3 linked regions of the Homo sapiens genome follow. The protein of the gene in region 1 interacts with the protein of each later gene in a pairwise test. Each region holds a gene or a part of one and is shown on either strand. Other genes may lie near its edges. The genes, in order: ZNF746, FAM118B and FES.

Region 1 (3,650 bases):
TCTGGCCCTGTTCCAGTGGCCCCTATATCACCGTGAGGCCGCTTCTCTTGCCCCAGCATTGGGCATTGAAGTCACTGGCTGCCTCTATTCGAGAGGGGCCCGTGGGAAACATACTGATGATGTCTGAGCTTCCCAGTGCCTCAGAAAGGGGGACAAAAGACACTGGGTTCAGAGAGGTTGGGTCCTCGTGCCCACTCAGAAAAGCCCCCAGTGGGGGGACCTCAGAGTTTAGCCTGCTCTCCTCCCCAACAGTCTTCTGTCCTCCCCGTCCGTCCCCTAACCCACCGGCTCTGCTCTCCCCTTACCGCAGGTGTCCATTCCAACTTTTCCACCACCATCCCGCCCACCTCCTGGCAAACGGATCTCCCTCCCCACCATCCCTCTTCAGCATGCTCGGACGGGACCCTGAAGCTCAACACAGCAGCCTCCACGGAAGGTACAGGTGGCGAGAGGAGGAAGGGAAGGGCCATGCTTGCCTGTGGGGAGTACCTCGGTCCAGGCATCCCATTTTCACTGGTGAACTGCTCTGACCTTCCAGCCAACAGACATTAGGGTGTCTGCACTCTTATGACCCTTTGCACATTCTGTTATTTATCTCCTTGCCAAATCATAGGTGTCAGCAGCCCTTCTTGAGGACATCCATGTTTCAGTCTGTTGCTTTTTCATATGGTGTTAAGTGGTCTATTCTAACAAGCCTATCTCTTGAAGGATATACCTCCTCCCCAGCTTAGGAAACTGTGGCTTCTCTCTGGCATGGAGGAAAACAAAATTGAACTGAAACCACTTCTTAGATATTGGTACTACCAAAGACAGGTGTCTGAAGGCCGATTTCAGAAGAACCACCACCAAATTTATCTGTTAGCTTTCTGTTTACTTCTGTTTTGAAGACCAGTCACCTGTTACTATAATAACGTCATATTTTAGCACCCAAAAAACGTGCTAATAGCCAAGATCCCTGATGTGAAACCTCAGAATGTGAAGTTGAAGTACGCTTATATAAAATCAAACACATTCTTTTTTTTTTTTTTTTTTTTTTTTTTTTTTGAGGCGGAGTCTCACTCTGTCCCCCAGGCTTGGAGTGCAGTGGGGCGATCTCTGCTCACTGCACGCTCCGCCTTCCGGGTTCACGCCATTCTCCTGCTCAGCCTCCCAAGTAGCTGGGACTACAGGTGCCCGCCACCACGCCCAGCTAATTTTTCGTATTTTTAGTAGAGACGGCGTTTCACCATGTTAGCCAGGATGGTCTCAATCTCCTGACCTCATGATCCCCCCGCCTTGGCCTCCCAAAGTGCTGGGATTATAGGCGTGAGCCACCGCGCCTGGCCAAACACATTCTTATTCACTAATATTTTTATCATTAGCTGGTGGGTCCATTTATTGAATGCTGCTGCATGTCAAATAGCTCACTAAGGTGCTTTCAGACATGTTGTCTGGTTTAATCCTCACACCTGTGAAGTGGGCATTCACAGATGAGCTGTGGGTTAGAAACTGCCTGCAGCCCACAGCTGGTGTGTGGCCGAGCTGTCTGAACCCCCATTCCCTGCACTGTGGTGGGGCACAGTGCCTGCAGCAGTTCGAATTCCTTTCTGAGGATCAATTCATGCTTAGCCTTAACAGCCAAACTGAAAAATGGAGCCTGGGGAGCAGATATGGTGGCTTGTCCTGTGGTGAAGGTGCCAGAACACTGGTGTCCTCGAGGGGGAGGCAGCCTCACAGCCACCAGGCTGCTCTGCTGAGCTGCCCTCTGGGCTCAGCCACGAGGGCCTGGGTGGAGTTTGTCTGGCCAGGCAGCTGCTGAGCAGGTGATGGTGGCAGATCGTGGCTCGCTCAGCAGTTAAGGGACAGGTCAGTATCTGTCTTTCTGTCTTTCTCAGCAGATGTAAAAATTGTAATAAAAACAGAAGTCCAGGAAGAGGAGGTGGTGGCCACACCCGTACATCCTACTGACCTAGAGGCTCACGGGACCCTGTTTGGACCAGGCCAAGCCACACGGTTCTTCCCTAGTCCTGCCCAGGAAGGAGCCTGGGAAAGCCAGGGCAGCTCCTTCCCCAGCCAGGACCCTGTGCTGGGGCTGCGAGAGCCCGCCCGGCCTGAGAGGGACATGGGTGAGCTCAGTCCTGCTGTGGCCCAGGAGGAGACCCCTCCTGGGGACTGGCTCTTCGGAGGGGTCCGGTGGGGCTGGAATTTCCGGTGTAAACCGCCAGTGGGCCTGAACCCGAGGACGGGGCCCGAGGGGCTTCCTTACTCCTCCCCGGACAACGGAGAGGCCATCTTGGACCCCAGCCAGGCCCCAAGGCCATTCAACGAACCCTGTAAATACCCTGGCCGGACCAAAGGCTTTGGCCACAAGCCAGGGCTGAAGAAGCACCCCGCGGCGCCCCCCGGGGGCCGGCCCTTCACCTGCGCCACGTGTGGGAAGAGCTTCCAGCTGCAAGTCAGCCTGAGCGCGCACCAGCGCAGCTGTGGGGCGCCCGACGGGTCGGGCCCGGGCACAGGCGGTGGCGGCAGCGGCAGTGGCGGCGGCGGTGGCGGCAGCGGTGGGGGCAGCGCACGGGATGGCAGCGCCCTTCGGTGTGGGGAGTGCGGCCGTTGCTTCACGCGCCCCGCGCACCTCATCCGCCATCGCATGCTGCACACCGGCGAGCGGCCCTTCCCCTGCACCGAGTGTGAGAAGCGCTTCACCGAACGCTCCAAGCTCATCGACCACTACCGAACGCACACGGGCGTGCGGCCCTTCACCTGCACCGTCTGCGGCAAAAGCTTCATCCGCAAGGACCACCTCCGCAAGCACCAGCGCAACCATGCAGCGGGCGCCAAGACCCCGGCCCGAGGCCAGCCACTCCCGACGCCGCCCGCACCTCCTGATCCCTTCAAGAGCCCCGCCTCCAAAGGACCTTTGGCCTCCACAGACCTTGTGACCGACTGGACTTGTGGCCTCAGCGTCCTGGGACCCACCGATGGCGGGGACATGTGAGCGCCTCCAGCCCCATAGCCCCTGCCGGCCGCACGTGTAAAAAGCCCCGTGTGCAGGCAGCAGGGCGGCGTGGAAGCTTCAGGCAGACGCGGGACGGGGAGAACCAAATGTCCAAGTTGCTGAACTGATGATCACTGGAGAAAGAGAAACTATCCACCAGGACAGCTGCCACCTCTAAACCAAGTAGAATTCTCTGTGAAATGGGAGCGCCGTAGAATTTTAAGTAATTTAATTGCAAACCTGTTTTGTTTTTTGTTTTTTGTTTTTTTTTAATTCTTGAGGAAAAAGCTGGAAAATAGTAATAGGGCTATTTAAATTTTGTAGGTACTTTTGGTTTTCAGGGCGTGCATTTCTGTCACTATCTCACTGAGTCTGATAGTGTGTTGGAAGGTTGGCCAGTTGGGGACCCCTGGCCCACTGACTCCTGGGGATGGGGTCCTGTGTGTGCCCCTGCTCTGCCCAGTTGGGCTGAGTGGGCCTAGCGCACCAAGCCCCTGGGCAGTGAGGGCCATTGGGTCCCTTGGAGCACACCTCAGTGCAGCAGGAAGGACCCCTCCGGGAGTAGCGGTTGCATTTCCCAGCTTGCCTCTCCTGAAAAGGCCCCCCAAAAGTGCTGGCCCCAACTTTTCTCTATTTTGGGCCATCTGTGGTACCCGTCCCAAGGGCACTTGGTGGT
Region 2 (3,493 bases), on another chromosome or scaffold:
TGACACCACTTTCCAGGCCCTTTTCTTGGAGGCTGTCAAGCATAAATCTGACCTAGAACATTTCATGCTGGTTCGGAGAGGAGACGTAGATGAGTTCAAAAAGCTTCGAGAAAACATGCTGGACAAGGGGATTAAAGTCATCTCCTATGGAGATGACTATGCCGATCTTCCAGAATATTTCAAGCGACTGACATGTGAGATCTCCACAAGGGGTACATCAGGTAAGATGCATTTTGAAGCTGAGGGGAATCAGAGAACAACAGCTCTTCAGCCTTTTGTGTATTTGTGATGTGATGGGCAAAATAGTTGCCAAGATGAGGAATGTAATGACTGACCAAATTGTAAAGGAGGCCACAGTCTTCAGGTTAGACTAAAGTGCCACTTGGATTATGGGAAGACAGACAAAAAGGAATACTTGAGCAGTTCAATATAGACATAGGAAGAATGAAGAAAACAGATGTTCAGCCTCACTAGTTATCAATGAAATGCAGTTTGAATTTAGATTACAAAATAGCGAAGAAAGATCACCCAATTTTGGCTAAGGCTGTGAGAAAATAAATTTATTCATGGAGTATTTGTGGAAAGGTAAAGTTAGTACAACTTTTATGACCATAAATTAGAAGATGTAACAAAAATTTTCAAATCTTTGACCTAGAAATCCCATCAAAACAATTTATCCTAGAAGTTTCTCATAAGGAGATAATTGGATGATTGCACAATCACACAATTGTACAAAGATGCATGCGTGGGAATGTAATTTCCATTGAATGTAGTGGCAAAAAATTGGAAGGATCCTAAAATTGGTGGAGATTCTACAGATATGCCAATATTTATTTAATTGATGAAATACAATGAAACCATAGAAGGGAAAGTGTTTTCATTGCCATAAAAAAAAAAGTTAGAGACATATGAGTAAAGGAAGAAAAAGCAGGTTGTAAATACCATGGTCAGCTATATTCATATAGAATTGTACATTTTTTTTTTTTTTTTGGTGCGTGTAGAAATGTATCTGGAATGTTTACTAAATTAAGTGGCTATCTTTAGTAGGATTTAAAGTGTTGATTTTTTGGTTTCTGTATTGGCATTTTCTATGATGATTATGTATTATATTTACAAACAGAAAACTTACTTTTAGAAATGCTATTTGGAAACGGATAATGGTGATATTCAAGTCAGAGGATAGGGGTATCATACACTTGATATTTTACCTCCACATTCTAACAATAAAGAGCAAAATGGTGATTAAAGATTCAGCTGATTAGTGGCTGCAGGCAAATTCCCAGTAACCGCACAAAACACAAACATTTTTGGTATCAGCTAAACTGAAGAATGCTTTTTCAAAACCTCACATTGCCAGGCTCCAGAGTATGGCTAGTGTGACTCATCCATCTAATTCCAAAAAAACTTGGCTGTTGTGCACAGAATATTTCCTGAAAACTTATGTAAGTATTTTCATTGTCAACCTGAATGCATCTTAGGAGGGCAAAAGTACAGGTAATTTGTCCTGTAATCCCAACACTGTGGGAGGCCCAGGTGGGAGGATCACTTGAGGCCAGGAGTTCAAGATGAGTGTGAGCAACATAGTGAGAACCTGTCTCTGCAAAAAATTAGCCAGGTGTGGTGGCACACACCTGTAGTCCAGCTGCTTGGGAGGTTGAGGCAGGAGGATCACTTGAGCCCAGGAGTTGGAGTCTGCAGTGAGCTATGATTGCATCACTGCCCTACAGTCTGAGCAATAAAGCAAGACGCTGTTTCTAAAATAAATAACATACAGGTAATTTAATAAACATAAAGCAGTTTTCCTAAATCAAATCATCCCCAGATTTCTTAACTGAATCAGATGGCTTCAAGTAGAATTCTCCTGTAATGAAAAATTACACAGCTTCTTCCATGGCTATGCTTTGATGGAACCAGACTTTTAAAAGCCATCACCACATGAACAAGTCTCATTTGTGAAAACTATTTACTATTCTTTGTTGGAAATGAGTTTTTCTGGTGTCCTGCAGTGTTCTAGACTCTCCTGCTGTTGTTTGCCCACACTTGAGACTTTGAGAAGGCTTTTCTGTTGCACATGTTGTTTTCATTAACAAGACATACATATCCAAGTTCTACATATTTCTTTTGATCTATATGCTGAGGAAAGATGCTAAAGTTTAAAACAGCAAAATCCGTCTGCATAACTGTTTCTGTTGCACTAAATCTTAGCAAAAAATAAATATGTCTTTAGACTGTTGCATTACATAACAAAGAAGCAGTAAGGTTCCTTAGTGCACTAAGATTGCTCTAAGGAACCTTAACTGCTATTGTGGAATGGCACAAATTCTTTTATTAGCTGTGTAGGCTTCCTACCAGAGTAGCTTTCCCCGAAGTTACCCATCATTAAGGTGTTCTGTATCTTTAAACAAAATCAAGGATTTTCAGTATGGCCAGAGTGCTTTATGGGAATGGTCAGCTGAGTTTGTCATGTGAAATGTAGTAGAGCAGTTTCAGGTTAAAACATCATTTCATTTTGAAACGAGTCAACCTTATCTTTCACCCTTGCATAATGTTTTGAGTCTCTGTAGATATAGACTAATGAGAGGTTACAGGTCTTTTGCTGTTATTTTGTTTTTTAACACTGAACCTTTGCTATGTGCCTGGCATTGTGCTGTATACTCACTTTTGCATAGTGGAAATTAATTGTCTTCAAAGGATTCTATAGTATGTAGTTACACATATTTTGGAAAAATCAAGCAGTGGGAAAAAGAAAAATAATTCTTATAATCCATTACCATACAAGCAGTCGTTGTGGTACTTTTTTTTTTTTTTTTTTTGAGATGGAGTCTCGCTCTGACGCCAGGCTGGAGTGCAGTGGCACAATCTCGGCTCACTGCAACCCCCGCCTCCTGGGTTCAAGTGATTCTCCTGCCTCAGCCTCCTGAGTGGCTGGAACTATAGGCGCCCACCACCATGCCCGGCTAATTTTTTGTATTTTTAGTAGAGATGGGGTTTCACCATGTTGGCCAGGATGGTCTCGGTCTCCTGACCTCATGATCCACCCGCCCTGGCCTCCCAAAGTGCTGGGATTACAGGCGTGAGCCACCATGCCCGGGCCTATTTATTGATTTGAGATGGAGTTTCTCTCTGTCACCCAGGCTAGAGTGCAGTGGCGCAATCTCAGCTCACTGCAAGCTCTGCCTCCTGGGTTCACGCCATTCTCCTGCCTCAGTCTCCCGAGTAGCTGGGACTAAAGGCGCCCGCCACCACACCCGGCTAATTTTTTGTATTTTTAGTAGATACAGCGTTTCACTGTGTTAGCCAGGATGGTCTCGATCTCCTGACCTCGTGATCCACCCACCTCAGCCTCCCAAAGTGCTGGGATTACAGGCGTGAGCCACTGTGCCAGCTTTATTTTTATTTTATTATTATTACTATTTTTGATACAGGGTCTTGCTTTTTCACCCAGGCTGCAGTACAATGGCACAGTCATGGCTCACCACAGCCTTGACCTCCC
Region 3 (3,650 bases), on another chromosome or scaffold:
AGGGCATATAGGGGGGAGAGAGAGACCCCCGGCTGCCCCCACGGCCTCTTCAACAAGGTGGTTAAGTGACTCCTCCTCGATCCTCCCTTGCCCAGCTCCCTCCACCGCTGCAGCTCATTCCGGAGGTGCAGAAGCCCCTGCATGAGCAGCTGTGGTACCACGGGGCCATCCCGAGGGCAGAGGTGGCTGAGCTGCTGGTGCACTCTGGGGACTTCCTGGTGCGGGAGAGCCAGGGCAAGCAGGAGTACGTGCTGTCGGTGCTGTGGGATGGTCTGCCCCGGCACTTCATCATCCAGTCCTTGGATGTGAGTGGGGCTGGGACCCGAGCCTTCCAGGCCTCACTCTTCCCCTCCCTTCCCTTCCCCAAGGGAAATGGCCTTTCAGGGTAGGGGGTAGCTGCCAGGTCTTGGATGCCTCCCTAGCAGGGCTGGCTGGAAGGGGCCACAGAGACCACCCTGTCCCTGCAACAAAATAGAGGCTTAAGTGTGAGTCCTCCCCTGGTGGGGCAGCAGGATGTCATGTGCCATCAGATGGCATCTTTTCTGGAGGTCTCTCTGCCCCTGGTCCTGGGCAGGCCCTTTCTCCCCTGCTGCTCTCCCTTTCCCCCTCCCAGGGCTCACGCCCCCTCAGAATGGAGGCTGCTGACCCCGGGTCCCCTGCCCTGCAGAACCTGTACCGACTGGAAGGGGAAGGCTTTCCTAGCATTCCTTTGCTCATCGACCACCTACTGAGCACCCAGCAGCCCCTCACCAAGAAGAGTGGTGTTGTCCTGCACAGGGCTGTGCCCAAGGTGAGCCTGCACCCAGCCTGGCCCATGCCACCTGTGGCAGGGCTTGGGGAGTGTGGGTCAGGCCCACCCAGCGTCTGAGCAGAAAGGGCTTTCCAGGCCCTCCGTCTACATACAAGATGCAGAGTGAGTGACCCTCAGGGCCAGCCTTGCTCTAGGTTTGGAATGTCAGGGCCACTCCTATGCCATGGGCTGTACACACCAGGTTGGTGCTTACCTGGTCAGGGCACCTGCCTGGACCCCGTAGTCATCTCAGTGTGCTCCCCACGTGGTCCCACCCCTGGTCACATATGGAGGCGCCAAAAAATGGAGGACACAGCCCTTCTAAGGGCCCAGCACCCCTTTTCTTCAGACTTCTGATCCCCTGTCTCCTCTCTTCCCCAGGACAAGTGGGTGCTGAACCATGAGGACCTGGTGTTGGGTGAGCAGATTGGACGGGTGAGTGCGCCTCTGCTGGCCTCCTTGTCGCTGGCGACTTCTCCTGAGTCGCGCCTGGGCCCCCTGCCCTACCACCCAGAGACCTCCCTGCCCCATCTGATTCCCCACTTGTACCCCGACTCCCTGCCCAGCCCCCACCACACACCATCCTCCAGGAAACGGGACAGTACCTACCCTGAAAACTCCCAGCAGACAGCTCTGCCAGCACCCTGACCTCATCACCCCCACCCAGGCCGCCCCCATCGAGCTCTTGTGTGCACGCAGGGAGACACCCTGTTACTGTAAGCCATAAGATACCTGTTTAGGGAAGAAGTCACTGTCCTAAAAATCAGAATGCTTTTCAAACCCAAGGGAGAGTGATTTTTGGATTTCCATGTCACTTCTCTCAGGAAGGGTGGCACATCGGAGGCAACTTTCCCTGCCTGCCCCATGTGCTCTCTAGGTTCCCCAGCGAGGGTCAAACTCCCAGAGAGCCTGGGTGAGGGGTCCGAACACGGGGGCCCCTCACCCAGGGGTAGGAAGCAGAATGGGTAGGAAGCGGAGAAGAGAACTGCGGGACTGGGAAGGCCGTGGTAGGAGCCCAAGACCGTTTCAGGGGAACTTTGGCGAAGTGTTCAGCGGACGCCTGCGAGCCGACAACACCCTGGTGGCGGTGAAGTCTTGTCGAGAGACGCTCCCACCTGACCTCAAGGCCAAGTTTCTACAGGAAGCGAGGTGGGTGATAAACTAATGATCACCACGGGTCCCGCATACACAGAGGTTACACTGCATGGCACAGTGTGAAGTGCTTGACCACCGTGGTGGTGTTTAGTCCTCGAGGCCCCCCATTGCGGGTAGTACCCCCTTATAGTGCCGAAGGGTAGAGGCTGCCCCAGGTCACACGTCCGGGTCTGCTGGCCTTGGAGGCCAAGCTCTTCTCCCATCATCCCTGGGGGGCCCTGGGGAGGCGGGCCTGGCCACGTAGATCCTGAGCAGCAGTGCCCTCCAGGATCCTGAAGCAGTACAGCCACCCCAACATCGTGCGTCTCATTGGTGTCTGCACCCAGAAGCAGCCCATCTACATCGTCATGGAGCTTGTGCAGGGTGAGCGCGGGGCGCTGAGCTCCAGGTAGGGCGCGCAGCCTGGTCAGGTGGCAGCCTTACCTCAGGAGGCTCAGCAGGGGTCCTCCCCACCTGCAGGGGGCGACTTCCTGACCTTCCTCCGCACGGAGGGGGCCCGCCTGCGGGTGAAGACTCTGCTGCAGATGGTGGGGGATGCAGCTGCTGGCATGGAGTACCTGGAGAGCAAGTGCTGCATCCACCGGTGAGTGGGCGGTGGCCACGGGCCCTGCCAACACCCCCGACCAGAGTCAAGAGGTACCTATACCCCTAGGGCCCCCCGCTGGACCATCAGGCATCAGCTCCAGAGGGGGAGTTGGCCTCTGTGGTAGACAGGGGTGCCCAGGGCCGGGAGCAGCTTTTGTCCTTGGCTTTCCTAGAGTGTTCAGCCAGGGCTGGGCAGGCGACTGTTGGCCAAATGAGCCCCTGCCCTGTCTCACCCAGGGACCTGGCTGCTCGGAACTGCCTGGTGACAGAGAAGAATGTCCTGAAGATCAGTGACTTTGGGATGTCCCGAGAGGAAGCCGATGGGGTCTATGCAGCCTCAGGGGGCCTCAGACAAGTCCCCGTGAAGTGGACCGCACCTGAGGCCCTTAACTACGGTACCTAGTCCCTGTCTACCCTGGACTCCATGGCCAGAGGCCAGGCCTGGGTCCTGCCGGCTGCCTCGCCCTGGCCCCAGGGAGGGTGCACTCACGCTGCCTCACCTCCTCGCCTCCTCTGCAGGCCGCTACTCCTCCGAAAGCGACGTGTGGAGCTTTGGCATCTTGCTCTGGGAGACCTTCAGCCTGGGGGCCTCCCCCTATCCCAACCTCAGCAATCAGCAGACACGGGAGTTTGTGGAGAAGGGTAAGCACCCTGTGATGACAGCAGCCTCAGGCTGCACCCTCTTCCAGATGCTCCAGCCGGACTCTTCTAACTCCCTTAATGCCAACCTTCCCACCAGGCAGAATAAGAATAACCTGGCCAGTTGCTCACGCCTGTCATCCCAGCACTTTGGGAGGCTGAGCTGGGTGGATCACTTGAGCCCAGGAGTTCAAGATCAGCTTGGACAACACAGTGAAACTCCATCTGTACAAAAAATACAAAAATAGACTGGGCACGGTGGCTCACACCTGTAATCCCAGCACTTTGGGAGGCCGAGGCAGGTGGATCACCTGTGGTCAGGAGTTTGAGACCAGCCAGACCAACATGGTGAAACCCCATCTCTACTAAAAATACAAAAATTAGCCAGGCATGGTGGCACGTGCCTGTAATCCCAGCTACTTGGGAGGCTGAGGTGGGAGAATTGCTTGAACCCAGGAGGCGGAGGCTGCAGTGAGCCGAG

Evidence for each region.
Region 2: the proteins of ZNF746 (region 1) and FAM118B interact in a two-hybrid assay, tested with the Homo sapiens proteins (one large-scale study listed by BioGRID and IntAct).
Region 3: the proteins of ZNF746 (region 1) and FES interact in a two-hybrid assay, tested with the Homo sapiens proteins (one large-scale study listed by BioGRID and IntAct).

The regions. Positions count from the first base shown.
Region 1 is NC_000007.14:149,473,708-149,477,357, reverse strand, and holds part of ZNF746 (zinc finger protein 746), read left to right. Parts: intron 1-310; coding exon 311-436; intron 437-1,874; coding exon 1,875-2,974; 3' UTR 2,975-3,650.
Region 2 is NC_000011.10:126,256,632-126,260,124, forward strand, and holds part of FAM118B (protein FAM118B), read left to right. Parts: coding exon 1-221; coding exon of another isoform or gene 222-239; intron 240-3,493. UniProt on the Homo sapiens protein: May play a role in Cajal bodies formation.
Region 3 is NC_000015.10:90,890,887-90,894,536, forward strand, and holds part of FES (tyrosine-protein kinase Fes/Fps), read left to right. Parts: intron 1-95; coding exon 96-305; intron 306-667; coding exon 668-790; intron 791-1,171; coding exon 1,172-1,225; intron 1,226-1,820; coding exon 1,821-1,939; intron 1,940-2,213; coding exon 2,214-2,308; intron 2,309-2,404; coding exon 2,405-2,528; intron 2,529-2,767; coding exon 2,768-2,925; intron 2,926-3,049; coding exon 3,050-3,172; intron 3,173-3,650. UniProt on the Homo sapiens protein: Tyrosine-protein kinase that acts downstream of cell surface receptors and plays a role in the regulation of the actin cytoskeleton, microtubule assembly, cell attachment and cell spreading.